Linked DNA regions of Homo sapiens. The protein of the gene in region 1 binds, or shares a complex with, the protein of each later gene. Each region holds a gene or a part of one and is shown in the gene's direction. Other genes may lie near its edges. The genes, in order: SMARCA2, ARID1A, SMARCD2 and SMARCB1.

Region 1 (7,532 bases):
TGTAATTTAAAAGAGAAATAAAAAGGAGCTGCAATTATAATTGTGACTACTGTATTAAACAATTGCCATGTATGCATTCATGTTACTCCTAGCCTAATTTAAAAACAAACAAAACCTCTTGTCGGTGCTCTTTCTATGACTACAAGAGCTGTAGCTTCTCCTCATCTTCCCACATCCCCCCTCCCCAAAACAAAACAAAACAAAACCAAACAAAAACCAAACACATTTTCCAAGCGTTTTCAAGCCTTGGCAGATACTGTAAAGATTCGGAACACTTACTGATGTTGTTCATTAACATGATAATTACTAATAGTGAAGACCGGCTAAATTTTCTATGTCAGGTAATTTTATTATCTATCTCTCATCCTTTCCTTCAACAAAGTTTTTTTTTCTTTTCTTTTTTTAAATACAATGTGCTAGGTATCAGGGTAATTGCTGAGGTTTCAAAGATGAATCGAAACACCCTCCAGGCACTAACCATCTAGAGGACAACACCAAACAAATAATTGCATCAAAGTGATAAGTGCTATAATGGAGGCGCACACCGGTTGCTATGGGAGCAGAGTAGGACAAGCAGCTTCCTCTGCCTGGGGAGAACAGGGAAGACCACTAGAAGGATTCTGGGTCATAGTTGAGTTTTGAGGATGTGGGTTGAGGATCTGCACTTCAGTCAGAGGGGAGAATGTCCAATGTGGTCACTTAGGAACCAAACGGTAGACAGGTTTTCCCTGAGCCCAGGCATTTTTGGCGGCAGGGTCAACAACGCTGGTAGAGACCTGTCTATGCACAGCCTAGGATAACATGCCAAGAAGTTTGAAACTTACCGTAAAATGGATTGGGAATAGACAAAGGATTTTAAGCTAAAGAACGATATAATCATAAAGAGAATTGGGGGTGGTATTTTGGGGGAATGATTGTGAAAAACATAATTTATTGAACATGCCCATTAGAAAAAAAAGAGAGAGCGGGGTGTGGTGACTCACCCCTGTAATCCTAGCACTTTGGGAGGCAGAGGCGGGTGGATCACTTGAGTTCAGGAGTTCCAGATCAGCCTGGCCAACATGGTGAAACCCTGTCTCTACAAAAAATACAAAAATTAGCTGGATATGGTGGCGGGCACCTGTAATCCCAGCTAATCGAGAAGCTGAGGTTCGAGAATCCCTTGAACCTGGGAGGCGGCGGTTGCAGTGAGCCAAGATCCCGCCACTGCACTCCAGCCTGGGCAATAGAGCGAGACTCTGACTCAAAAAGGAAAAAAAGAAAAAAGGAGAGAGAGGAGTGTTTATTTCTGTAATAAATTTACTTGTTAATTCTAAACTATTCTTTAAATTAAATGTCAGCTGATTCAATTTGTCAAATCTTGGTTTCCATTACTGAAGATGAAATACTCACTGCCTAAACGGTCTTACCTGCTCGTGTTTGAAGCTAGGCAACATTTCAGGCAGCATTAACAGTTTGTCTGTTGGGACTAGAAGCTTCCTAACGTTGTGCATGGAATTTTTCTTTATGAGGGTGTTGTATCCAGATACCAAGTTTTAAACCCAGTATCTACTCTATACAGAATGTAACCAAAGCAGACTTACATAACAAGTGAATGTGGCCATACAGACATGAAAAAGTGACTTCTATCTTTTGATACCAAACTAGAAAGAGAAAAGCAAGTTCAGAGAACACATTATGACTCATCAAAGTCCAAAAAGAAAAGCTGCGTGTGAACGTAGCACCCTGTGCAGCCTCCTGGAGTCCTTTTACCCTCCAACCACATTTGCTTTTGTATGATTTTCTGCAAAACAAAACAAAAAAAACCCATCATTTTCCTCCTTAACTTCAATTGTTAAATTTCGTTTTACCTCAGAGGTGAAACTCATGCTATATGTTCTACAATCTTCTTTTTGTACCAAGTGAATGACGCTGCCTTTTCATTTCTCCTGTGTTGAGGCCTTATTTTATAAAATTCGTAACTGCTAGGGTACAAACTACAAACAAGACGAATTTTTAGAGGAACAACTTGAAGGGTGATGGGGGAAGGTGGTGCTTTCTTAGACCAATGCGAAGGGAGAGGGAGATGCAATATCTATATTTAATCTCTGTTCCCAACGATGTATTTTAATTCCCATAGCTGTGTGTATACAATGCGTGGATACCAACGCCTCCAAGGACAACATCAAAATTTTATATGAGCTGAAGAATATACACATATAACAAAGGGAATGTTTTCTTCTTTACTTTCCCTGTGACAAAATGCCAGAAGGAATGGACAGTTTCTTTCTCCAGGGACTTACTAATTGATTTGTTTTTGTTTTTGTTTTTTTGAGGATTTGCATGGCAAGTGGAAGTAGAATCTTAAGGGGATAAAGGGCATTTATTCACAAGGGAATAAAAGTGAAGTTATCAATTTCTGAAAATTGGCATGTGAGGCCGGCATGCCAGAGAAACAAATTAGACCCCAAAAAAATTAAAACCTAATACTCTCAATGTAATAAGCATTGCTATTAGGTTAAATCTCTTTATTAGAGACAGGTAGGTTATCTGGCTATATTATTAGTTGCGACTTATTAGGCAGTTAGAAGTTAGTATTTATGTTACACTTTTACTATACTACTAGTCTTGTTTAAAATTTCTCCCTATATATTTCTCAGTTAATAGTTATACCGGCATATCCTCAGGCAGAAAAACAAGTTCTTACAATGGATCCTTCAGGGCACACTATATTCTATTTCTCTTAGCTGTGTTATCTTTCGTTGTCTTGAGGTTCACTTCAAGATAGACAGAAAATGATGAAGCTAAAGTTAACAAGCAAGTAGCAAGACCTTAGAAAGCTATAGGGTGGGTGATCACCAACACTCCCAGCCATCATGAAAATGCTGCCCTAGTGGGCTCTGCTTCAGCCAGCAGTGGACCAGTGATATAAAGAATTCTTGCTTCTTAATGACTACATGGCAGTATTTGGCGTTCTTTCCATTACTTCTTGTCTTCAACTTATCCAGCCTGAAGTTTTAAGCATCCTAGAACTGCATTTCAGACCCAGTTGCTCAAATGGAGTCAATTTTGCAACAGTAAAATGGTCTTAAAATAGGATTTTACTCTAGGGGGAAGAATCCTCAACCAGATAGTCACAGTGCACTTTGAATGACTAATTTAAGCCATTACATTACGAAATAAGGGATAAATCATACTTTTCATAACACTACTGCATAGGAACAGTTTTAAGAGTCAAGCATCTACATTAATCTGAGTCTAAAATAATAGGCCCCTGATTTAAAGTCTCCTAACATTCTTTCACACTTCATAAAACTAAAAATAAAATTGTCTCACCAAACACCGACCTATTGGTCCGGCCAAAGTACTGTATTTCAAGGAAAATTGGAGCAAAGAGGTCTCAAAACCGCGACTTGCCAGCAAATTACAATTTGCAGCCTTAATTGGTCTCAAATGCGGGGTGAGAGGGAAGAGACTACGGTCTGTAGAAAATAAGAGATTTATTCCCCTTTTTAAATCAAAACCAGATTCCATGCTTCAGCCGCCCCCTAACCCGCCAGCCCCGCCCCCAGGGTTTGTTTTTCCATATTTTTGTATATATTTTAGCGAAGATGGCAGGTGAGGGAAGGTTATAGTGCTGTACCTAGTCCACGAAGTAAACAGAGAGGTTAGGGTGGGTTTACTTATTTATAAGGCGTTCAGCCTCTCAGCTGTTTCTCCCTCGTTGGCATTTGGAAGCTTGCAGTCCTTCAGGGAAGAGACAGATTTGGCAGGAACGTTCTTTGTGCCCGCCTCCCTTTTCTATTTTTTATTTTTTTACCTGGAATAGGGGGCAGATTTATAATGACAGCCTTAGGGAAGGGGGAGAAAAAGTTTCAGCCGGCACGACAATGCCCGTTTTTTCCACAGTCCACACTGTGCCACAAACAGCTTTGGTGCCACTCGGAGCCCGTCCCCCGTCCCCTCCCTCTCTCTCTGCAGGCTCGCACTGGCAGGCGGAGGCACAGTTAAATTCCAGCACCTTCTCCACATACCCCCGAACTACTACGCGCTATTACTACGGCTGCCCTCCGTTTTCGCTTCGCCTCCTCCCCTTCCGCAGTCTCCCTGGAGGAGCCCCGCGGCGCCCGAGGAAGAGGACTGCCAGGGAAGGGACAGCGGGCGCCCAGCTCCAGCAGGGCTTGGGGCTTTCTGCATCCCGCGCAGTTTCTCTGCTCCAGGCACAAACGCGGCCCGAGAGCCGGCGCCTTGCAGTCACACACGGATCCACGCATACAGTAGAGCTGTCTAGATCCACATTCTTGCACACCGCCCCCTCCTCCCCCCGCGCTCCCGGAGTCGCTGAGCTGAGCGAGTGACAGGCGCGTCCCGCCAACCCGCGCCCGGACGGGCAGGGAGGAGCGGCGCGCGGGGCCAACTGCGGCGCGTCTTCCGGCGCCCGCGGAGGAGGCGAGGGTGGGACGCTGGGCGGAGCCCGAGTTTAGGAAGAGGAGGGGACGGCTGTCATCAATGAAGTCATATTCATAATCTAGTCCTCTCTCCCTCTGTTTCTGTACTCTGGGTGACTCAGAGAGGGAAGAGATTCAGCCAGCACACTCCTCGCGAGCAAGGTAAATATAACTTACAACTCTTTTCTCCTCTTTCCCCTCCCTTCGGCCGCCCCGCTGCAGCCGCCGCTCAGACCCCTCCGGCACCACGCCGCCTTCGCCCGGGATTATCCATTATTATCCTAATTATTATTTATTGTGCATGCAAGGAGACCAAAACAAACAGGCGGGCCAACCGCCGCGACAAAAAAAAGCCCGCCTCCTCCCCGCGGGCCTCAGGTGGAATGCTCTAACGACAGCTCCCAGGCGGCGGTGGAAGAAACGAGAAAGTTTCAACCGAACCTTGCTGTTCTAATAATAACAGTAATAATTACTACTTCAAGGGGGCAAAGGAGGAAAAAAATCCCAACAAGCCACAGCCTTGATCCTGAGTGGGCAGTCAGAGGCGCTGCCAACTCAAGGTTGCAACACACACATTGGGCCAGGTTGCAATCCCCCCATCCCCTTAAAAGTGAGGCGGCGGGGAGGGGGGTGGCCGCAGGAGGGGGAAGGCCTGGGGGACAGGGGAGGAGGATGGAAACGCTACTGTTCATCCCGGGCAACCCTCCCCGGAAGAGTTGGAAGGGGAACGGGAAAGGAGGGCGGGGAGCCCAGGCTGGCGGCGGGGCGCCAACGGACGCTGTTGCCACCCGCTTCCCAGGGACTTGTTCAAAGGGCTCCGGCTGCGGAGACGTGAGCGGATCGCAGCGGGAGAAGCCTGAGCTGACGCGCGAAGGAGGTAGCGGCCACTGCCGCGGGGCCGGTGCGTGCCTGATCGGAGGTGTCACCTCCACTTTCCGCGTTTCCTCCGGCGTGGATGGGGAGGCTGATTGGTAGGCAGGCCTTTAGGCAAAGGGGCTGCCAGGGGGCTGCGCCCCGGGCGCTGCGGACGTCCCTGCCTCTGGTACCTGGCGGCAGCGCAGGCTCGGGTGTTAAAGTTCGGGATGTCCGGCCCGGGCCGCACTGCTGGAGGGAAGGGAGGAGGCCCCCAAGGAGGTCGGAGGTGCCCGCCAGCCTCCGTTACCCTGCCCTCCCTCTCCCCGGGTCCGTGTTCTTTTGCTTCGCGTCTTCCCCTTGCTTGCGCCGCGGGAGCTGCGGGCGTGGGGCGCCTGCGATCGTCCGGGTGCTAGGGGCGCGCCGGGACCCAGGAGAGCCACGGCGGCGGCTGCGGGCCCGGGAGGCCATGATCCGGATAATCCTGTCTGCCTGACTGTCACAAACAGGACCCGCGCACCACCGGGCAGCGGCGGTGTGGTTCGCCCGGGAAGGGGAAGGGCTGCGGTGGGGAGGGAATAGGGGGGTGGCGAGGGCGGGAGGCGGGGAGACCGGGTAGGAGCCTCCTCCCAACGATGACACGCACTCCTTCCTTCTCGCTCCCTGCTCAGGAGTTTGCTTTATTCCCATCCCAACCTGGTTTACCCCTTCCTTTGCTCTCCCCCTCCACCCGGCCGTCTTCCCTTCCTCCCGTTTGCGTTGCAAAACACGGCCATGCCATCTGCAAAGGTGTCGCGATGCACTTCCCTAAATAACCGGTCCGGCGCGCCAGCCCCTCGGCGCCCTCCGGCCGCAGGGCGCACACGGAGCACAGTGCTCCCGGTGCCCCGCACCAGGCCTCGCAGCCTGGGTGCAGTTACACGGCGGAGGGCGGGGCGCGGCAGTGCGGGCTCCGGCGGACACCCGCGCCTTGGCCGGGGCACTTGGGCCGGTTTCCGGTACACGCGGGGAAATCGCCTCCTGCCAGTGTCTGATCGCTCGCCTCCGCCTCCGCCTCTGCCGCCTGGATTGCATTATTATTTTTATCCGGGTTGCCGTTTGCTGCGGATGGTGGTGAGCGCGGGGCTGGCTGGGCTGCTTGGGGGGTGGGGTGGAGGGAAGTTGGACGTGGATCAGGCAGGAAAAAAAAAGTTTGGCAGGGCGGCTAAGTAGGGTGGAGGGGTGGGAGGGGGCTGCGAGCTCCCGCGGCTCCAGCCTCCGCGCCCTCCCGGCCGGCGCGAGTGTGTCTGCGCGTGAGTGTGAGTGTGAGTGTGTGTTGTGCGCGCAGGAGCCAGTGCGTCGGGAGCAGCGGCTCGGGCAGCTGCTCCTGCCCGCACCCTCCCCTGGAGCCCGGGGAGGACAAGGCGAGGTTTGGTGGCGAGGGCTGGTGGGGGTGGCGTGTGCGTGTGGTTGTGAGTGTGTGTGTGTGCGCGCGCGAGCGGCGGAGAATCAGGAAGTCACAGCAGCGAAGCGCACACAGCACACAGACATGTTTGATTGCCGTGACATGACGCGCGCGAGGGAGGAAGCGGCAGCGGCGGGGGCCGGGCCGCGGGCTGTGGCGCGGGCCTAGAGCCGCGGCTCGGAGACCGGTTCCCGTCCGCCGGCCGCGCCGCCACCCCAAGCTCCGCGAACCCCGCGCCCCTTTTTGTTCCGCGTCCTCCAGGTAAGGAGCCTGCGCAGCCCTGCCGCCGGCTGTGTGCGGAGCTTTCCAGTTCTTTCCCTGCCAGCCCCCTCCGGTCTCCCGGCTCGCCTTTCCTGCAAAGTCAGGCAGGCGGGGGAAATGGGCTCCTTGTCCTCCGATCGATTGCGTGGAAAACTTTCCAGCGGGAGGCACCATGAGGGGGAAGAAGGCCTTGCTGGCCGCTGTTGCTTGTCAGTTCTTTCTCCTCCGGGTCCGGAGAGTGTGAGTCGCTGCGCCCGGGGCTGTTGCACATTCAAACTTCGGGCCTAAACGTACCTCCAACTCTCGCAGGTTTTACTCCAGCAATAAAATAAATATTCAAAGTCGTCCACTAGCTCTTGCTAGGCGTTTGGATTTTTTAAGGGAATGAGGAAGGCTTGGGAATCGAGGGAGTGGGGGTGTTGTGCAGAATCCATTCCTTATTCAATGTCTGCACCGGGTGTTATGTAATTTTAGTGGCACATGGGTGCAAAGCCTAGACTGGGCTTCTCCCCTCCTTTGTTTATATAACTTTTGGGTGAGTTTTGCAA
Region 2 (6,843 bases), on another chromosome or scaffold:
CCTGGTTTGCTCCTTTGGGATTCTAGATCCTTGGCAGTCACAGTTTTACCGCGAAGAGCTGTTGAATGCCATTCCGAGTTCATTCCATTTTTCTCCGTGTGTGCATCCAGTTCGTATTTTACAGCTCCCGTATGGGAGCCGGTAACATAATGAATTGCCTTGACTCTCGCTTCAATCCACTTTCCTCGCTTAATATGCAGCCCAAAGTTTTGCAGCTCGCTGTCAGATGGTAGTGCTAGACTTTCACACCGATCCCAAAGCCTCCGCTGGGGCTGTTTCTTAACACGGAGTTACAAACTTTAAGAACAGACAGCTCCAGACGGAAATCCACGCCAGGCTTTGAACTCTGCTTCTGGCTTCCGTCAACTGACATAGTTGCCCTTTTGCTCAAACTCGCAGCTCCAGTTCGCACTCGAGAGAGCTCTGCTGGGTGTCTGCTGCTGTTCCGCGGCGGGAACGTGTGGGGGCAACAACCTGGCGCTCCAGCGATTCTCCACGCCTTAGTTAGGAATCTAAGCAAACCCTCGCTAGGGTCCCTGGGCTTAAGACGACTTCTCCCACAAGGATTGGGTGGAGGAAGGAGCCGAGCCCGATCTTCTGTTTGTTTGTTGAGTTTTGTATTTCAGACATTTAGGGGAAGCAAATTGCGAGAAAGGAAGGGCTGTCTTCCCTGCAAACGTTTCCCTCTCCTAGCAAACCCTCCAGGCCTCGGTTCCACATTTTGCAGTTGACTCTCTGGATTTTAATAGGTTGTTCCCTTGTCCTCGGGCCCAATCCATGCACGCTGTGCAGCCGGATAAAATGGGAGCACATCCTCTGCCATTTTCAGCCGGTTTGTCCTGGCAGCCCTGCCCCCTTCCTTGGCTGCTCTGCCGCTGGAGTTAATACGCCCAGAAACTCCGCCTGATCCTCCAGGCCTCAAATCCAGTCCGCGTTTGCTAAGTGCCGTGCGGTCGGGGACGGCGATAAGAACTCTCCTGTGAGGGAGAGCTAGCGAGACTTTAGTCCGGTTTCCATGTCAACGATTCAGTCCATATTTGCCATCAGGCTGTTGGCCGAGGTGCTTTCGCGAGGGTAGCGCTGTCCTAGTCCTAGTTCTCCAATCTGCGCCGGGATTCCTGAGCTGCCTGGGTGTGGGGTTAAAAGGCAGGGGCCGTGGGGGAAAAAACTCCACCGAAGGGAGGACCCACTGCCCCCAGCCGGGGTCTCGCTGCTCGGGCCAGCCACGTGCCCAGCTCCTCCCCTCCCCCGCTTTCCCGTTGCCACTGCCCCTAGGGAAAGCTGATGGGCCAGTTTCTAAAAAAGTTCCCTCAGCCCAACATTTCCTGGGATCGTGGTGTGGGGCTCTAAAAGTAAAAGTGGAAGAGAACCCTAGTGAATTAAAAAAAAAAAAAAGTAGAGAAATTCCACATTATCTCCTCCAACCCAGGTGGATAGATTTTTGTGCACTTTACCTTATTGCTAGAGAAAAATGGTGACTGTTTTCAAAACAGCTTGCCCACGTGTAGGGAAGGAGATTTTTGGCGCTTTCCATATTTCACAGCCATTGAAGAAAGGGGATGAGGGCTTTCTTTGGAGAGAAATCCATTCTAGCTTCCAGATTTTCACTGGGCTCCAGGTTTCCCATTACACCCCAGCTCTAAGGAAAATGGCAGAGTAATGGCATGTAAAAAAATCCTCATTTGTGTGCAGGACTCAGGACTGTTTGCCAGCTCAGGGGCAGTTGATTAAATAGCCAAGCTCTATTTATGAGGCAGCCTATAATTTGGTTTCTAGGACCTAATGCACCGGGGAGAGTTGTTGCCCCTGAGGACTGTGAGTGAAAAGAGGGCACTGGCCCATACCAGTCAGTCGGATCTTCTTGGTAGGCTGGTTTGGTTCTTGGCTTGAGGCCGGGGGAGGGGAGAAGAATAAAACTGTGGGATTTTTTTTTTTTTTAAATCTCATCACTCTTAGATTAACAGGAAGGTTTTGCCTTTCTGGTGTAGGATGCAGTAAGTTTTCTTGGGGAGAGAAATGAGTTCAGGCTTTGGAATTATTCATAGTGACCAGGGACATTGCCAGCACTCCCGGGTCCTGCATAATCTAAGATAATGCTCCTGTGGCCATGAAGTCTCCCTTTACAAAATCTGAGGGGGAAAAGAGATCCTGGTGTCTAGGAACACTGGCCTGGGCCTTTCCCAAGGCAGCCTTGGGTCTGGTGAGGAGCTGGAATCCCCTCTGGCTTTTGTAGCCTGTCATATCAGAACATTCCAAGTCAGCCTGAGGAAGAAAAGGCTGCTGCTGGGATTTGGTGGGGCCTGTAGATCAGGAGAACACTGGAGCTTTCTGTGTATGTCGATCTTTTCAGATAAACCTGGCCTTCTACCCAACTCCAGCTCAATCGGGGTCTCTTAGAATGTAATGGTAAACTTTAAACAATCTTTACGCTACAGGATAGAAAACAAATCTGACAAGCATCCATTTTCTAAGTGACTTGTTGGACTGTGCCTTTTCTTCAAGGAGAAAATGGTTTCCATTTTCTGCATCTCTCTTCTGTAATGGTTTGAACACTCAGGTTCCTGCAGTCCCTGGAGCCTCTTCTGTGGGTTTTCAGTATTAGAAGGTACTGTCTTTGGAGACTGGGGCTACTTGTCATGGTAGGCTAAGTTTTCTTAAGAGGGAGTGAGAAACGGTGTTTAGGTTTTCCTGCTGGGTAACTGTTCTATGCTCCTAAAGCAACTTCAGTGGCCTCCATTTTAAGTTAGTGGTGAGATGATCAGTTTTGACTTCAAATCCATTTTGATATTCTGATCCCATTGTTGAATGTGCTCACAACTTGATTTTTTTTTTTTTAAAGGCAAGTAGACCGAAGGCAGCTTTGGTGACTCCACTTCTTTTTAAAGTCACCCTCCTCTGCCCTCTGACTTTAAGTGACAGGCAGTTCCCTCCCCTCTCTTTCAATTCTGTAAAATGGGGATAATCCGGACCTCATGCCCCCAGAGCCTTGTAAGGACCGGCTAATGAGGGCAGGCGAGTGGGAAACGAATCGTCTGAACAATGATCAGTCATTCTTTCGGGCTTGCAAAGAGGGTAAAAAAGGTTGGGTCTTTAGCGGGGTCCGTAGAAGGCTTTGAAGACGAAAAGTGCTGTAGAGGTGCTAAGCAGCAGCCAACGGACCGGGCCCGCTGCCAGGGGGTCAGGGCTGGGCCGAGGCGGCCGCGGTCTCAGGCTCTGGCCAATTTTGCAGCCGCGGGTAAAGTTCACGCTGCCCGCTCCCCTCGGTACGGCCGGGAGGGGACAGACCTGGATAGGGACGCCGGGAGGGAGGCGGCGCAGGCTCCAGAGATGCGCGGGCTCCGGGCCGGGTTTTCTCCGAAGCCTTCGGCGGCGGCGCTGCCTAGCGAAAGCGGCTGAGGGCCTGCCGCCGCCGCGGCTTGTTCTCTCCCCTCCTCCTTTGTGAAGGGAAGGGAGCGAGTCCGTTCCACGGCCTGCGCCCGCTCCGCTCTCCACTCCGGGTTTGCCAGGCGGCCGCGACGGCGCTGGGTAAAATGGCAGTGCTGAGCCTCGTGTCGGAGTGAGGGGGACTCGGAGGAGAGTGGGGCGCTCTAGCCGCTCAGTCCGGCCGACCGCTTGCTCGCCCGCCCGCTGCCGCGCAGCAGCCTCGACCCAAGCCGCAGCTGGCGAGGGGAGGCAGGGCGCCGGGCTCGGCCCGCGCTCTGACTCTGGCTCCCGGCGCCCCGGCTGCTGCCGCGCGCCCTCCAGCCCGCCCGTCCCGGGTCCCCCTCCCCCCGCTCCCTCCCTCCCTCCCCGCCCCCTCCCCCTCGCCTCCCTCCCTCCCTCCCTCCTCCTTTCTCCGGCAGCAGAAAGCGGAGAGTCACAGCGGGGCCAGGCCCTGGGGAGCGGAGCCTCCACCGCCCCCCTCATTCCCAGGCAAGGGCTTGGGGGGAATGAGCCGGGAGAGCCGGGTCCCGAGCCTACAGAGCCGGGAGCAGCTGAGCCGCCGGCGCCTCGGCCGCCGCCGCCGCCTCCTCCTCCTCCGCCGCCGCCAGCCCGGAGCCTGAGCCGGCGGGGCGGGGGGGAGAGGAGCGAGCGCAGCGCAGCAGCGGAGCCCCGCGAGGCCCGCCCGGGCGGGTGGGGAGGGCAGCCCGGGGGACTGGGCCCCGGGGCGGGGTGGGAGGGGGGGAGAAGACGAAGACAGGGCCGGGTCTCTCCGCGGACGAGACAGCGGGGATCATGGCCGCGCAGGTCGCCCCCGCCGCCGCCAGCAGCCTGGGCAACCCGCCGCCGCCGCCGCCCTCGGAGCTGAAGAAAGCCGAGCAGCAGCAGCGGGAGGAGGCGGGGGGCGAGGCGGCGGCGGCGGCAGCGGCCGAGCGCGGGGAAATGAAGGCAGCCGCCGGGCAGGAAAGCGAGGGCCCCGCCGTGGGGCCGCCGCAGCCGCTGGGAAAGGAGCTGCAGGACGGGGCCGAGAGCAATGGGGGTGGCGGCGGCGGCGGAGCCGGCAGCGGCGGCGGGCCCGGCGCGGAGCCGGACCTGAAGAACTCGAACGGGAACGCGGGCCCTAGGCCCGCCCTGAACAATAACCTCACGGAGCCGCCCGGCGGCGGCGGTGGCGGCAGCAGCGATGGGGTGGGGGCGCCTCCTCACTCAGCCGCGGCCGCCTTGCCGCCCCCAGCCTACGGCTTCGGGCAACCCTACGGCCGGAGCCCGTCTGCCGTCGCCGCCGCCGCGGCCGCCGTCTTCCACCAACAACATGGCGGACAACAAAGCCCTGGCCTGGCAGCGCTGCAGAGCGGCGGCGGCGGGGGCCTGGAGCCCTACGCGGGGCCCCAGCAGAACTCTCACGACCACGGCTTCCCCAACCACCAGTACAACTCCTACTACCCCAACCGCAGCGCCTACCCCCCGCCCGCCCCGGCCTACGCGCTGAGCTCCCCGAGAGGTGGCACTCCGGGCTCCGGCGCGGCGGCGGCTGCCGGCTCCAAGCCGCCTCCCTCCTCCAGCGCCTCCGCCTCCTCGTCGTCTTCGTCCTTCGCTCAGCAGCGCTTCGGGGCCATGGGGGGAGGCGGCCCCTCCGCGGCCGGCGGGGGAACTCCCCAGCCCACCGCCACCCCCACCCTCAACCAACTGCTCACGTCGCCCAGCTCGGCCCGGGGCTACCAGGGCTACCCCGGGGGCGACTACAGTGGCGGGCCCCAGGACGGGGGCGCCGGCAAGGGCCCGGCGGACATGGCCTCGCAGTGTTGGGGGGCTGCGGCGGCGGCAGCTGCGGCGGCGGCCGCCTCGGGAGGGGCCCAACAAAGGAGCCACCACGCGCCCATGAGCCCCGGGAGCAGCGGCGGCGGGGGGCAGCCGCTCGCCCGGACCCCTCAGGTACACAGCTGAGTGGGGAGGGGGCTGGGGCGAGCGTGGTCCTGGGGGTGGGTGGCGGCTGCGGTGAGCGGGCCACAGCCTTGGGCTCCCCTCAGTCCCGGGCCCCCACTGCTGGGGAGCTGCCATTGTCTGGCTCTTCTCTCTTAAAATGGCTGCCTGTCTGCCTTCCTCTCCTTCCCTCCTTCAGCCTTTGTGTTGGGTTTTTCCAGAGGTGTCTGCTCCTCTTTTTCCTCTCCCCTGGTCCCTTCGAACTCCAGGGGTCTTGATGGGGGTGCGGGGCAGAGTGTGCGGGGAAGGGCCTGGCCGGGGGTGAGGGGGTGAGGGGGCGCTGGGGGCTCAGGTTAGGAGTGTAGGCAGTGGTAGGAGCCCAGGAGTTGAATGAACGTTTCTTTGCTCACCTGCCGCTCCTCTCCGTCCCCCGGCCTTCCTCTGGGCCGCCCCCCATCTGTGCTTTCAAAGAGGGCCCCTAGAGCTCGAGGGGACCTCGAGGGGAGGGCAGGGGACTGCTTGGGAGCTGCTAGAGGCCGGCTGCGGTTCACCTAGGGCAGCCCGGTCCATCTCCTGTCTTAGGCTCCGCCGGCCCAGTGGCCTGGGCTTCTCCCTGGAAGTGCTGGTAAACAGCTGAGTGATTGGAGTAGTAAGTGCAGATTGCTTTGGTTTGGGATTTGAATTATGGAGGTAAAATCCTTCTGTCAAAGCCAGGAGACAGTTGGTCTTAGGTTGACATCCTATCTGTGATCTGATTGGCTCCCCATCTCCTGCTCTTGGCCATTTATAATTGCCTCTGATGTAATGGTACAACAATCCTGATGAGCTCATAAACTTTTACACTCTGCTTTTCTGCCAGTGATAACCCAAACTATCGCTGCCACTATCTGCCTTTTATTCCAGAGCTGAAATTGGCTGTGACCTTGAGGAGGGAGGTTTAAGTAGCAATACTGTATCAGCAAGAGCAAAGCCTCAGACAGCCTGCCCTTGTTACATTGTGCCCAAACAAAAGAGGAGGCAATGGCATTTTGCTTGTACCTTGGATTTATTTTGCTTGTTATGTTTTATGCAGCCTGAAATGAATTCTGTGTTGTCAGAACAGTAGCTGAGTTTTTTCTCTACAATGGGTTTGCTGTTTGTTTTGGTTTTGTGACTTTCCTGATGGTATAAATGACTTCTTTGATGGCTCTGAAGATGCATTTATCTTGAGTAATTTTGACACTGGTTGCTTTGCAGAATTGAAATGATTTTACTGGGCTTTTTATTGAGTGGCAAATGTGGGATCTTTATGGGGGGCCAGAAAACAGTTTTTGTTATTTTTTTTAGAACTGGGAGCTTTCTGAGGAATTTTATATTAGGTTCAAGCGGTCTGTTTTAAGGAAGACTGGCCTCATTCTTTGTTTACATGTTGAATCTTGTTAACACTTTCTTTTGTTAATTGAACTTTGGAATAGCAGCTTAATTTAAAGGGAAGCTGGTGTCTTTCATGATCTTGAGGGACTT
Region 3 (6,996 bases), on another chromosome or scaffold:
GAGTGAGACCCCAACTCTTTAAAAAAAAAAAAAGAGGTAAAAATAGTGTGTACCTCATATATGGTATCTACCTCCTATGTGTTGTGATGATTAAATGAGCTAATTCACGTAGAAAATGCTCAGTAAATGTTACCTATTCTCTGCCTACTGTGTAGGAAATCTTCCTTTTATCTCTACCATGCCTCAGATATCTCTATTTGCTCCCTAACACCTTAAGGATATTTTATCATAACACAGTTAACTCATTGTTTATATTATCTGATATATCTGATATTAACTGATATTATATTATTGTTTATCATTCCCTCCCACTACACTCAAACATTGTCTGTTCATACATATTTGTTAAGTTACAACAGGGATCAAGGGAGACACAGTATATACCCCAAATAACTGAAAACAGGTACTCAAATACAAATATATATTCATAGCAGCACTACTTGGAATAGCCAAGAAGTAGAAGTAGCCCTACTGCGCATCAACAGATAAATGGATAGGGCCAGGCATGGTGGTTCATGCCTATAATCCTAGCACTCTGGGAGGCCAAGGCAGGAGGATCACTTGAGCTAAGGAGTTTGAAATCAGCCTGGGCAACACAGCGAGATGCTGTCATAAACAAATAAATACAAAGACAAACAGATGAACACATTGTGTTATATACATACAATGGAATATTATTCAGCCATAAGAAGAAAGGAAGTACTGATACATGCTACAAAATGGATGAACCTCAAAAACATTATGCTAAGTGAAGGAAGCCATGCCCAACACCCACCTATTATGATTCCATTTATATGAAGTATCCAGAATAGATAAATCTAGAGACAGAACCCAGATTGGTGGGTGCCAGAAGTTGGGAAGAGGAAGAAATGAGGAGCAACTTCTAATGAGGATGGAGTTTTCTTTTGGGGTCATTATTTTGGACCCCAAAATTTTGGACCTAGGTAGAGGAGGTGTTGCACAACATTGTGAATGTAATATATACCACTGAATTGTGCAATTTCAAACAGTTAATTTTATTACGTAAATCTCACTTCAATTTAAAAAAATAGCCAGGTGTGGTGTATACCTACTCAGCTATTCAGGAACTATCACTTGAGCCCAGGGGTTTGAGGCCAGCCTGGGCAACCTAGCAAATCACTGTCTTAAAAAAATACAAATTTTAAAATAAAAAGATAAATTGAGAGAGAAAAAGATCCTGCCTTCGTAGAGTTTATATTTTAGTGGGTGAGCCACATCAGACAGTAAATCAGCACACACTTAAGTAATGATGTACTGTGATAATCACTTGGTGGGAAGTAGGGTGTGAGAGAACAGAGAGGCTCTGAGATGGGAAGGGGATGGGTAGTTTGAAAAACTGCAAGGAGACCATCTGGGCCAATGCTTGGAGAGCCAAAGGCAGTGATTTAAAATGAACCCAAGGAGGTAAGCAGGGACCAGGTCCTGCAGAGCCTTAAATGTCACAGGAGGGAGTGTGACATTCAATCTAAGAGCAATGGGGAGCTGGGGAGGGTTTTAAACAAGGGATTGACAGGAACTGAGTTATATTTAACCGTTTGATCTGCTTTATTATTATTGAGACAGTGTCTTACTCTGTCACCCAGGCTGGAGTGCAGTGGCACGATCTCTGCTCACTGCAACCACTGCCTCTTGGGTTCAAGCAATTCTCGTGCCTCAGCCTCCTGAGTAGCTGGGATTACAGGTGTGCACCACCACGCCCAGCTAATTTTTATATTTTTAGTAGAGACATGGTTTCACCATCTTGGCCAGACTGGTCTCGAACTCCTGACTTCAAGTGATCCACTCACCTTGGCCTCCCAAAGTGCTGGGATTACAGGTGTGAGCCACTCCACCCAGCTGATCTGCTTTTAAATGCACTTATTAGCTTGCCCCTTTTCTAGGGTAGAAAAAATCTTGTGTTTTCTGATGCGACCCACTGGGTCGCATCAGAATTACCTAGGAAGCTTATTTTTCAAATACAATACTGAGAGCCATTGGATTGGAGGGGTGGCTGGCGGAGGTATTTTGGAGTAGCTTCCCAGAGGACTCTGATTCTCCACTGCCCCTATCACTTTGAGAATTACTGTTGTTCTAGAAGCTTAAAAGGATTGAAATGGATATTAGCTGCCTTATCATGAACTCTTAACCCACTTTACAGGGATGGGAGGGGCCATGATTCAGTGACTTTAACAATTCCAGTGGCCAGTCCCCAGACTGACAGGTTATCGACTCTTGGGGCAATAGAGTGGGATCTCTAAGTTCAGGAGGTAAGAAAACAGCAGCAGCGGTGTTTATCACTAGAGGCATGAGGAGAACTAATTTCTAAAAAGCACTGGAGAACTATACTGTAAAAAAGATCTGGGGTGCTATGATGCAAGGAAGGAAGTATTACTTGGTTGGGGCTGGAAAAATAAAGCAATTATAGTAAAAAAACTAAAAAAAAAAAAAAGTCTAGATCCCGGCTTCTTGACAGTGTGGTCTGAGAAGCAACAGCATCGCTGGCAGCTTGTTACAAATGCAGAGTCCTGGGCCCTGCCACAATCTGCATTTTTAATAAGAGCCTCGAGTGTTTTTTATGTGCTCATTAAAGTTTAAGCAGCACTGGTCCATATCACGGCGAGGAGATCCAGACCATCAGAGGGTAGGCTCCCTGGCACAGCTGACGCATTTTTGAATACTTTGATACAGCACAGTGTACCTGAAAAGATACTGCATTTTTGAAAATTAAGTGCTATAAATACTGGAGAAAGACCTCTTTTTTTAAACTGCGGGGAGGTTTCTCATAAGCCAAATTTCTTTTGACTAGAAGCATTTTCTGGGGAGTAAAGTACCAGGCTTCCTTAAAGTGAGGCGGAGCCACGTTAAAAATGTGCGGTAGAACTCAGCCTTGGCCAAGTCGACCGTTCACCAGCTGGGTCAAGTCTGGAGCCTCCTAGGTCCCTTGGCAGTTCCGAGCTACCAGCATGAGCTTTTACAGGAAGTTGAGTTGGCTGCTGTTCTGCCCCACAGAGCAGCTGAGTCTTTTTTTTTTTTTTTTTTTTTTTTGATGAGTTTCACTCTTGCCGCCCAGGCTGGAGTGCAGTGGGGCGATCTCGGCTCATTGCAACCTCTGCCTCCAAGGTTCAAGCGATTCTCCTGCCTCAGCCTGCCGAGTAGCTTGGATTACAGGCGCCCGTCACCACACTCGGCTAATTTTTGTATTTTTAGTAGAGACGGGGTTTTCACCATGTTGGCCAGGCTGGTCTCGAACTTCTGACCTCAGGGGATCCGCCCGCCTCAGCCTCCCAAAGCGCTGGGATTACAGGCGTGAGCCACAGCTACCGACTCTGAGTTGAGTCTTTAACGCCGAAGATGCAGAAAGGAGACTTGACAAAACTATTTTCGGGGAGTGTGGCCGCGGAATTCGGTGAGGGTGCTATACCGGGAGAGAGTAGTAGCAACGGCTCATTCACTGTGAAGCCCCTAAGTGACCTTAGACCTCTGACCCCGCGCCTCACTCGGCGCTTCCGCGCGCAGCTTCCGCTCCCGCCCCTCCGACGAAAGGCTGGGCCAAAGGTGGGGGGGTGGGGCTCTGAGGTCGGCAGTTAGGGGCGGTGCCCGCTGGGGGCGGGTCTCGCGAGGGGCAGGATTCGAGGAGGCACTCGAGCATTGGGCACCAGGTAGAGGCGGGGCCTAGTGCTGGGCTGGGTTGGGCGGGGCAGGGAGTTCGTAGCCGCCTCTGGGTAACTCGACTCGGGCGGCCAAACCTCCGGAGGCCGGGGACGGAAGGCGGGCCCGCAGCAGATCCTGGATCCGGAATCTCCCGGGCAGGAGCGGAATCTGTCCCGAACCGGGTCTGTGAGGAACTCGCGAACTTGGATTAGGAAATCCCGGAGCCCGGATCGACAAATCCCGGAACCCGGAATTAAGATCGCCAAGTCCCGGATCGCGGAGCACAGAGCACGGAGTGGACTCGACGCGGAGCCCGGAGTCCGGATCGCGGCACCGCGGGACGGGACGGAGCGATGTCGGGCCGAGGCGCGGGCGGGTTCCCGCTGCCCCCGCTAAGCCCTGGCGGCGGCGCCGTGGCTGCGGCCCTGGGAGCGCCGCCTCCCCCCGCGGGACCCGGCATGCTGCCCGGACCGGCGCTCCGGGGACCGGGTCCGGCAGGAGGCGTGGGGGGCCCCGGGGCCGCCGCCTTCCGCCCCATGGGCCCCGCGGGCCCCGCGGCGCAGTACCAGGTGAGCAAGGAGGACGCGAGCGGACGGGGGCGAGAGGCGCTGCGAGGGCGCCCGGGCCGGCGGCTGAAGGGGCCTCGAGTGAGGGCCCTGGGGAATGCATGAGGAACTCCGGGAGACGGTGGAGGGCGGGCCGGGACCCTCGGGCTGCGGCGGGTCGCGGTGGAGAAGTGGGAAGGGGAAGCAGGTTCTGCAGCGGAGGGCTGGAAGCAGCTGGGAGGCCTGGGGGCTTCCGCGGCACAGGGATTCCGAGTGACTGGGAGATGGAGGAGTTTGGGGAGCCAGTGAATTGTGGCGGGTGGGTTGAGAAGTCTAGGGTAGGAGGGCTGGAAAGTGATGAGAAAGTTTGGGAAAGGGCCCTCGCTGAGAAACCGGGGTTACCCTGCATCGGCCTTGGTCCCAGTCCAAGTCTGCCCTGTTTTTTCTGATTGGGAACTGGCGGAGCTCTAGCGTGTCTGAGATGGCTCCCGGCTGCTAATAAGGAGGAAGGAGCCTGGCTTCCCACGGGCACGGGACGCTGAGGCTAGGGCCAGGGGATTCCAGCTTGTGCACGGGCGGACTTTACTCCTGAGGCAGGGCCAGGCGCCTTCGCTGGGAGGACTCCAGCTTAGACCAGAGACGGTGGTGGCCTGGCCTGAGGGGAGGCCCAGCCCAGTCACAGGCCGGCTCTCTTCTGGGCTTTCTGCCTCCTGTCATCGTGTCCGGGAGTTGATTAGTCTGGACGTGCAGAGTGGAGCCCTGCTGGTCTGGGGCCGGAGGAGTCTGCGAGAGTTGCTTCAAAGAGTGCTGTCCTGACCCCTTTGGGGTTTTGAGAGCTGCTCAGATTGCAGCTTCAAAAGCCCTTGCAAAGCAGCGACTTCTGCTCAGTGTGTGAGGACCTCAGCCTGACCCTGCCAGTGCTCTAGTCTGCTGTTCAGGTTGCCCCAGAGGGCTTGGAAACTGTGCCCATCTGCCTTGTCACCCTCTCTGCATTTTTATTTGGCCTTCAGGTTCTAACTCCACCACGTCCGAAGCCATGTGCCCAAGCATTTGACACTGGCTTCTTGCTCATCTACGGGTTTGCTGTGGGCTTCCTCTGTTTTCGACTCATGTCTCCAGGCAGAGGTCCTTAGGGATCCTCGTGGAGTATACACAGCCTACCTGCCCCACTGGGCCCTCACTTCTAAGGAGATGGCTTAACTAGGGACAGTGACTGGATTTTTTTTTCCTTCTTACTCCTCATTCTTCCTCCTTTCTCAAGAGAAAAGAGAGTCTGGGTATGGGCAGAGACAGACCTGGTCCCAGGGATTCCAGCTGGGGCTCATCTCTCCCACCTTGCTGTCCCCGTTGGGGATTCATGGGCCCAGGGTGTTGCTGAGGGCTCCCTGCATCATTCATTGTAGCCCTTGGGCCTGCCCACTGAGACCTGGCCTGGGCACCATCTGTGGGCCTTTGGCCTTGGAAGGACCTGGAACAGACAAGCCGCTCCAGTTTCCTTGGCATGCAAGCCATAGGAAATGTGCCCTTGGGACAGCCCCTGAGAGGATGGATTCCACATGTTTTGGTGGGGGGTGGCCTTGGGCCTGTGGCAAGGCCAAGCTGGCTGGCTGGTTAGGCCTGGGCTGCTAGCTGTGCGGAAGTAGGAGATGGCCCTGAGTCTGGGTTTCCCATCCCACTAGCTTTCCTCCTCCTGGCAGGAGAGGTAGATGGGAAGGAGAACCCAGCCAGCTAACTTTGGCTGAGTTTGAAGAGGATCCTATTTGCCTTCTTTCCAAGTCCAGTTGTATGACTGCCAGGAGAAGGGACTTGAGATCTGGGAAACAAAGGGGTTCCTGTCTGTTAGGGCTCATGAGATGCACTTGAAAAGTGAGAATTTGAGGCCCAAGCTGAGCAAATAGTTGAAAGAAGGGAAGTGATGACCTCCCTTCCTCCAGAGGGTGGTTCTAGCTGTGGATCACAGTTAACAGAGGAACCTAAAAAAAGAAAAAGAAAAGAAAAAAACCTCCAGGGCAGGATATGGTGGGCTCACACCTGTAATCCTAGCACTTTGGGAGGCCCAGACAGAAGGATTACTTGAGACCAGGAGTTCAAGACCAGCCTAAGCAACATAGTGAGACCATCATCTCTTAAAAAAAAAAAAAAAAATTTAGCCAAGCATGGTGGTGTGCGCTTATGGTCCCAGCTACTCAGGATGCTGTGGCAGGAGGATTGCTTGAGTCCAGGAGTTCAAGGCTGCATTGAGCTATGATCCTGCCACTGCACTCCAGCCTGGGCAACAAAATAACAAAAACCTCAGATTGCTGGGTTCACTCCAGAGAGTTCAAAAAGTTCAAAAAAAAAATTTTTTTTTTTCTGATACGGAGTCTCACTCTGTCGCCCAGGCTGGAGTGCAGTGACATGATCTCAGCTCACTGCAACCTCCGCCTCCCAGGTTCAAACAATCCTCTGCCTCAAGCCTCCTGAGTAGCTGGGATTACAGGCGCCCACCACCACGCCCGGCTAATTTTTTTGTATTTTTAGTAGAGACGAGGTTTCACCATCTTGGCCAGGATGGTCTCGAACTCCTGACCTTGTGATCCACCCGCCTCGGCCTCCCAAAGTGCTGGGATTATAGGCGTGAGCCACTGCACCCGGCCTCAAAATCCTTTTTACTCATGGGAGAGTGGGTGGTATGTTCCCCAACTGAGGCCCTCAGGCCCAGGTTCCAGGAGCATCAGGGCCACATTTGGGGCAGGGCAAAGCACGCTCACCGGAGCCCTGGATTCCTCATCTGGGGTTCAGGGGATTGATCCAGGCCTAC
Region 4 (7,356 bases), on another chromosome or scaffold:
GGCCGGCTAGTGCTACATTCCATATTGCAGATGAGGAAACTGAGGGTCAGAGAAGTGCAAGGTCTTACCCTGGTTTTTCAGCCACAGCCAGTAGAACAATAAACTGCTGTACACTGAGGGCCAACAATGCTCTAAGCTCCTTACTGGTCTCATCCAGTTCTCAGAACAGCCCTCTGATGTGACACCTGTTGTGAACCCAGTTTCCAGAGGAGCAAACAGAGGCTCAGGCAATGAGGCCCCTAACCTGGACTACCCTGGTGGTCCCTGCTCCTAACCACTGACCCACCCAGCCTCCCACAACCACAGGGGGCTAGAGCCAGTCCAGTGCTCCCTCCCCTGCTAGGCTCCTCTTCTGTGCTCTTTCTCCCACATCAGGACCCACTGGGAGAGCTATCCTAGGGTAGCCTCCAGCTCCAGGACTCCAGGGTGCCCGTCAATAGCCTGGCTAATTTAATAGATGCAGGAGAGAGTGATGTGGAGGGTGGTGGGGGCAACGGGACTTGCTTTCCTGAGAGGTGGGACTCAGGCCTCTGAGGCTCTGGGTACCTGTCAGGCTGGGTATTAGCCCAGCCCAGATTCCGGGGCAGGCAGAAGGGCTCCCTAGAGGGAAGAGAGGTTCTGAAAGGCCGGCCCTGGATCCTGCAGGACTCGAGGAACTCAGCAGTGGCCAAGGGCTTCCCACTCAGCCCTCCCTTAGTGCCCATCCCTGGGCACAGCCTGACAGGCAGGAGTAGGGCCCAGTGTCCGCTCGCCCAGGCTTGACCACCTTCTCTTCTCAGGCTATGCCTACTTCCTGCGCGGCCGCCTCTACTGGAAGTTTGACCCTGTGAAGGTGAAGGCTCTGGAAGGCTTCCCCCGTCTCGTGGGTCCTGACTTCTTTGGCTGTGCCGAGCCTGCCAACACTTTCCTCTGACCATGGCTTGGATGCCCTCAGGGGTGCTGACCCCTGCCAGGCCACGAATATCAGGCTAGAGACCCATGGCCATCTTTGTGGCTGTGGGCACCAGGCATGGGACTGAGCCCATGTCTCCTCAGGGGGATGGGGTGGGGTACAACCACCATGACAACTGCCGGGAGGGCCACGCAGGTCGTGGTCACCTGCCAGCGACTGTCTCAGACTGGGCAGGGAGGCTTTGGCATGACTTAAGAGGAAGGGCAGTCTTGGGCCCGCTATGCAGGTCCTGGCAAACCTGGCTGCCCTGTCTCCATCCCTGTCCCTCAGGGTAGCACCATGGCAGGACTGGGGGAACTGGAGTGTCCTTGCTGTATCCCTGTTGTGAGGTTCCTTCCAGGGGCTGGCACTGAAGCAAGGGTGCTGGGGCCCCATGGCCTTCAGCCCTGGCTGAGCAACTGGGCTGTAGGGCAGGGCCACTTCCTGAGGTCAGGTCTTGGTAGGTGCCTGCATCTGTCTGCCTTCTGGCTGACAATCCTGGAAATCTGTTCTCCAGAATCCAGGCCAAAAAGTTCACAGTCAAATGGGGAGGGGTATTCTTCATGCAGGAGACCCCAGGCCCTGGAGGCTGCAACATACCTCAATCCTGTCCCAGGCCGGATCCTCCTGAAGCCCTTTTCGCAGCACTGCTATCCTCCAAAGCCATTGTAAATGTGTGTACAGTGTGTATAAACCTTCTTCTTCTTTTTTTTTTTTTAAACTGAGGATTGTCATTAAACACAGTTGTTTTCTACCTGCCTGCTTGGTCTCCTTTTGTGAATGTTCAGCCAGGATGGGGAGGCCTGGCCACTGTCCAGCCCTATCCTGGGAGCCAGGGTCGAAGTCCACCACCCCCAAGCCTCTGGCCCTTGGGGCTGGGCACAGTGCTCAGGGCTCCTTCTGCTCCATTTCTACATCACATTTTGCTACAGTGGCTTCTTAACTGGCTCCCCACTTTCCTACTTGTCCCCTCTGTTCATCCTCCAGAGTGGTGGTTTATCTGCTCATGCCACAGCCCAGCCTGCCATACATAGCTGTGGTTTCTGCATCCGTAGGCTCAACTAACCTCGGGTAGAAAAAACAATGTTTAAAAAAAGGATGCGGACGGGCGCAGTGGCTCGTGCCTGTAATCCCAGTTCTTTGGGAGGCCGAGGTGTGTGGATCACCTGAGGTCAGAAGTTTGAGACCAGTCTGGCCAACATGGTGAAAACCCATCTCTACTAAATATACAAAAATTAGTTGGGTGTGGTGGCTCATGCCTGTAATCCCAGCTACTTGGGAGGCTGAGGCAGGAGAATCACTTGAACGTGGAGGCAGAGGTTACAGTGAGCTGAGATAGTGCCATTGCACTCCAGCCTGGGTGACAAGAGCAAAATTCCGTCTAAAAAAATAATAAAGTAAATAAATAGGCTGGGTGCAGTGGCTCATGCCTGTAATCCCAGCACTTTGGGAGGCTGAGGCCAGCAGATCACGAGGTCGGGAGATCGAGACCATCCTGGCTAACACCATGAAACCCCGTCTCTACTAAAAATACAAAAAATTAGCCAGGCGTGGTGGCGGGCGCCTGTAGTCCCAGCTACTCGGAAGGCTGAGGCAGGAGAATGGCGTGAACCCAGGAGGCGGTGCTTGCAGTGAGCCCAGATCATGCCACTGCACTCCAGCCTGGACGACAGAGCAAGACTCTGTCTCAATAAAATAAGTAAATAAATAAATAAATAAATAAATAAATAAGGGATGGTTACCTCTGTACTGAACATGTACGGACTTTTTTCCCTATCATTGTTCCCTAAACAATAGTATAACAACTATTTATATAACATTTGCATTGTATTAGGTAGTATAAGGAATCTAGAGATGATTTAAGGTATACAGGAAAGTGTGTGTAGGTTATATGCAAGTATGACACCATTTTATATAATGGACTTGAGCATCTGTGGACTTTATTATCTGCAGGGGGTCCTGGAACCAATTCCCATGGATACTGAGGGATGACTGTACTTTGGTTTCCCACCACTGTGAGGATACAGAACAAAGCAACTTCAGTCACTGCCCTTCCCAACTCTCCAGTGTCTCCTTGCCCTACCTTCCAGCCCCATGTGTGTCTTCGTAATAGCATAGTTGCATTTTTTTTTTTTTTAAGAGAGGCAGGGTCTCCCTTTGTTGCCCAGGCTGCAGTGCAGTGGTGCAATCAGCTCACTATAACCTTGAACTCCTGGGCTCAAGGGATCTTCCCCTCTCCACTTCCCAAGTAGCTGGGGCTACAGGTGCACACCGCCATGCCACACCCAGCTTATTTATTTTAGAATTTTTGTAGAGACAGGGTCTTGCTGTCTTGTCCAGTCTGGTCTCAAACTCCTGGCTTCAAGTGATCCTCCCTGCCTTGGCCTCCTAAAGAGTTGGGATTACAAGGCCGGGCGCAGTGGCTCACACCTGTAATCCCAGCACTTTGGGAGGCCGAGGGGGGCGGATCACGAGGTCAGGAGATCGAGACCATCCTGGCTAACATGGTGAAACCCTGTCTCTACTAAAAATACAAAAAATTAGCTGGGCGTGGTGGCGGGTGCCTGTAGTCCCAGCTACTTGGGAGGCTGAGGCAGGAGACTCCAGCCTCAAAAAAAAAAAAAAGAGTTGGGATTACAGGCATGAGCCGCTGAGCCCAGCCACAGCTGCAATTTCATTAGATTGAACGGTGTGAAATCATCAGTAGTGGGCCACTGTTTTACTCCCTGCATTATTCAATCATGATTGCTTTCAGACTTTCATTAGTTTCACTAGCTTCGCGCTGTAAGAGCCAAGAGGCAGAGCCACAGGGCTGGGCTGCCTGGTTTCACTCCCCACTGCAGGGCTCGGTTAAGCAGAGTGTAGGCTAAGAGAGGAATGGAGAAGGTGGAAGGTGTCTCTCCCTTCCAACGCTCATCTGATGCACCAGCCAAACCAAATACCACCTGGGCCTTTGAACATTGCCAAGCCTCATCCGCTGTTGTCATTTTGCCCACCTCCACAGCTGCAGGGACAGCCGTAGGCCCGGAACTGGGATATCTCTTCCTAGGGGCCTGCCTATCTGCTCAGCTGCACTGCGTTTTAGGGGTGGGGAAGCTAAGGCACGAGATTGGGGTCCCAAAGCATGCCCAGACCACCCAGGCTTCCAGATACTAGGTCCTCCTCCTTCAGGCCTCACTTCGTTGCTTTTCCCCTGGGCTCAGTTCCAGTCCTGGCTGTAAGACTGGGAAAGCCACTGCTTGAGTCAGGACCTCATTGGCTATTTTTGTCCGTGAGAAGTCCTCTACACCACGACTTGGGAGGCAGCCTGGGAGAAAGAGAAATTAGTCGTGGCTCCTTTAAGGGGTCCGCGGAGGCGCGCCCGGCCTTTTGTTTGAGCGGCGGCGCGCGCGTCAGCGTCAACGCCAGCGCCTGCGCACTGAGGGCGGCCTGGTCGTCGTCTGCGGCGGCGGCGGCGGCTGAGGAGCCCGGCTGAGGCGCCAGTACCCGGCCCGGTCCGCATTTCGCCTTCCGGCTTCGGTTTCCCTCGGCCCAGCACGCCCCGGCCCCGCCCCAGCCCTCCTGATCCCTCGCAGCCCGGCTCCGGCCGCCCGCCTCTGCCGCCGCAATGATGATGATGGCGCTGAGCAAGACCTTCGGGCAGAAGCCCGTGAAGTTCCAGCTGGAGGACGACGGCGAGTTCTACATGATCGGCTCCGAGGTAGCCCGGGGCGCGTTCTCGCCCTCCCCGGGCTCGGCCCCGCGGGAGCCCCGGGGCGGGCCCATGCGCCGAGAGCGCGCGTCTCCATTCATCGGGGCGGGCGGGCGCGCGCGCGCGCGCTCGGGGCTGTGGGGCGTGGCCTAGTGGGCGTGTCGGGTGTGGCCCCCGCCCCCTCATCGACCTGGGATTTCCTTACTTATTTCGCCGAGGTCCGCCGCCTTCAGTGCTGCCAAGATTTTGGCGCCGCGAGGGGCCCCAGTGGTTCCGCGCTGGGTTGGTTTCCAGTCAGACGCAAAGAAACGGGATATTGAGTTAGCCCCTGCGACGCTTGGGGGACTGCACTGCTGCCTTTGACCCTTTTTAGATGTCGTAAATTTCACGTGCACCCCTCCCCGTATTGCTACTTGTGGGAACCTCAAATGGCAGGCTGGAAACCCTGGACTTAGTGAGGGCTCATCCCCATTGTGTTTGTTGCCTCTTAGGTGAGCAGTGGAGGTCTTTTGACCTTTGTTTACCGGTGAAGAAACAGATTGGAGGAAGATGTTTGCTTTTGGGTGAATAAGGGCCCCATGCCTAAGCTAGATCTTTCAGCAGTTCTGAAGCGATTGACACTTTCCATATCTGTGAACTGATTCTGAATTATTACAGGGGAAAGAGCCTAAGGATGTTTAACCCTTAACTAGAGTGGCTGCATTTTGTTGCATCAACTGGATGACTGACTTCAGGAAAACTCTACTGGCCTTTGAATGGGTGTTTGTTCCAAGTCTATTAGGTTCTTGTTTTTTGTTTTTTATAGAGACAGGGTCTGGCTATGTTGCGCAGGCAGGTCTCCAACTCCTGGGCTCAAGCAGTCTGCCCGTCTGGGTCTCCCAAAGTGCTAGGATTACAGGCATGAGCCACCACACCCGGCCATATATTAGGTTTTTACAGATTGTCTCAAACTAGCCTTTTTTGCTCCAAAGGCAGTCCCCAGCTAGTATATGTTACCTTTTTAAAAAAATTATGGATATACAGTTCAGATGTACAAATGTCAAGCAGTAGAATCTCATGTAAGGAAGTAAGTGCCAATCCTGGAGAATTAAAGCTATCATGAAATGCCAAGAGTTTCTTCTCCTTATAGCAGTTTTTAGTATCATATTCCAGCATTTTATTCGTACTTTATTTTCTTTTATTTTTGAAAAAAGATCTCACTTTGTGCAGTGGTGTGATCTCGGCTCACTGCAGCCTTGACCTCCTGGGCTCAAGCGATCCTCCTGCCTCAGCCTCCCAAGTACCTGGGACTACAGGTGTGCACCACCGTGCCCGACTAATTTTTGTATTTTTTGTAGAGACAGGGTTTTGCCATGTTGCCCAGGCTGGTCTTGAACTCCTGGGCTCAAGTGATCCTTGCACCTCAGCCTCTCAAAGTGCTGGAATGACAGGTGTGAGCTACTGCACTCACACTCAGCGCATTCATACTTTTTAAACTTGTGGGTTTTATCCTTCACAATTGAGCATAGCATGAATGAATGAAGCCTCAAGATGGTCACACTGAGTCCCATGGATGAGACTAAGGTCAATAGCATCAGAACTTTAGTGTTAGCATTTTCCACCATTTTTTTTTTCTGGACGAGGTTTGACTCTATCACCCAGGCTGGAGTGTAGTGGTGTAATCTCGGCTCACTGCAACCTCCGCCTCCCAGGCTCAAGCCGTCCTCCCACCTCAGTCTCCCAAGTAGCTGGGACTACACGCACACACCACCACACCCGGCTAATTTTTATATTTTTAGTAAAGATGGGGTTTTACCATATTGTCCAGGCTGGTCTTAAACTTGTGAGCTCAAGTGATCTGCCCGCCTCGGCCTCCCAAAGTGCTCGATTATAGGCGTGAGCCACTGTGCCTGGCCTCCACTAATTTTTATAAAACAAAAAATATAGGATTCAATAAAATTTTCACGTTGTCACTTAAATTACAACTGTTCAAAGATGCCAGTGCTGGGGAGGTAGAGCCAGTGCCTGTCCATCTGCCACAGTTCAGAATGGTCCTCATTGGCCAGTAGGCACCTGCCTAACTGCAGAATGCAAAAGGTGTCAAATTTCAGCCTGTGATACTAGGCGAGTTGTTTACCTGATCTAATGGGTGTAAAAGTAATCAGTTTGGCTCTAAGTAGGTGACACTTCAAAAGAAAGCTTTCATTTATTAGTTGGAGCAAATTGAGAAGCTGTGCGTGGCCAAGTGGGAAGAACCTTGGGAGGCCTGGTTCCAGCCCTGCTCTGCCTTGCTGTCGTGTTTCTCATGTGTATAATGTGATGCTTAGACTAGATGGTCTCCAAGATCTTCCCCAAAACACATTTTAGTTTCTAGAAAGCTAATTACAGTCTTGTCTTTCAGCCCCTTGACTCCTGGGCCTCCCAGTAAGAATAATCTTCCTGAGACCCAGGCTGTAAGAGACTCAGTTGGAGAGGCAGTTTGTTCTTTTGGGCCTGACTTAATCATCAGACCTTCGGAGTTTAGGGAAGAGTTCAAGGTCAGAGCTCTATTGAAATTCAGTAGCTCCAGTGATAGTAGTGGATGGACGGTCTCAGCCCACTGCCCTGTGGAAAACAGGCACTGTATTCAGAGAGGTGGGCCAGCCATAGCAACATACCCAGTGCCTCCATGCGCCATCTGTGGAGCTGTCTTGGGAAGGCATCTGCATTTACTAAGAGTGTGTGTCACTGTTCTGCCATTAACAGACAGCTGTAT

Evidence for each region.
Region 2: SMARCA2 (region 1) and ARID1A share a complex: the UniProt entries of both Homo sapiens proteins name them as parts of the neuron-specific chromatin remodeling complex.
Region 3: SMARCA2 (region 1) and SMARCD2 share a complex: the UniProt entries of both Homo sapiens proteins name them as parts of the BAF complex.
Region 4: SMARCA2 (region 1) and SMARCB1 share a complex: the UniProt entries of both Homo sapiens proteins name them as parts of the BAF complex.

Annotation. Positions count from the first base shown.
Region 1 is NC_000009.12:2,010,816-2,018,347, forward strand, and holds the start of SMARCA2 (SWI/SNF-related matrix-associated actin-dependent regulator of chromatin subfamily A member 2), read left to right. Parts: upstream 1-4,531; 5' UTR 4,532-4,589; intron 4,590-7,532. UniProt on the Homo sapiens protein: ATPase involved in transcriptional activation and repression of select genes by chromatin remodeling (alteration of DNA-nucleosome topology).
Region 2 is NC_000001.11:26,692,189-26,699,031, forward strand, and holds the start of ARID1A (AT-rich interactive domain-containing protein 1A), read left to right. Parts: upstream 1-3,826; 5' UTR 3,827-4,028; coding exon of another isoform or gene 4,029-4,215; coding exon 4,216-5,352; intron 5,353-6,843. Other genes in the region: translation initiation factor IF-2-like, read right to left, coding at 3,091-3,777, 4,029-4,217. UniProt on the Homo sapiens protein: Involved in transcriptional activation and repression of select genes by chromatin remodeling (alteration of DNA-nucleosome topology).
Region 3 is NC_000017.11:63,839,683-63,846,678, reverse strand, and holds the start of SMARCD2 (SWI/SNF-related matrix-associated actin-dependent regulator of chromatin subfamily D member 2), read left to right. Parts: upstream 1-3,993; 5' UTR 3,994-4,004; coding exon 4,005-4,220; exon of another isoform or gene 4,221-4,298; intron 4,299-6,996. UniProt on the Homo sapiens protein: Involved in transcriptional activation and repression of select genes by chromatin remodeling (alteration of DNA-nucleosome topology).
Region 4 is NC_000022.11:23,782,632-23,789,987, forward strand, and holds the start of SMARCB1 (SWI/SNF-related matrix-associated actin-dependent regulator of chromatin subfamily B member 1), read left to right. Parts: upstream 1-4,334; 5' UTR 4,335-4,538; coding exon 4,539-4,631; intron 4,632-7,356. Other genes in the region: MMP11 (stromelysin-3 preproprotein), read left to right, coding at 780-913.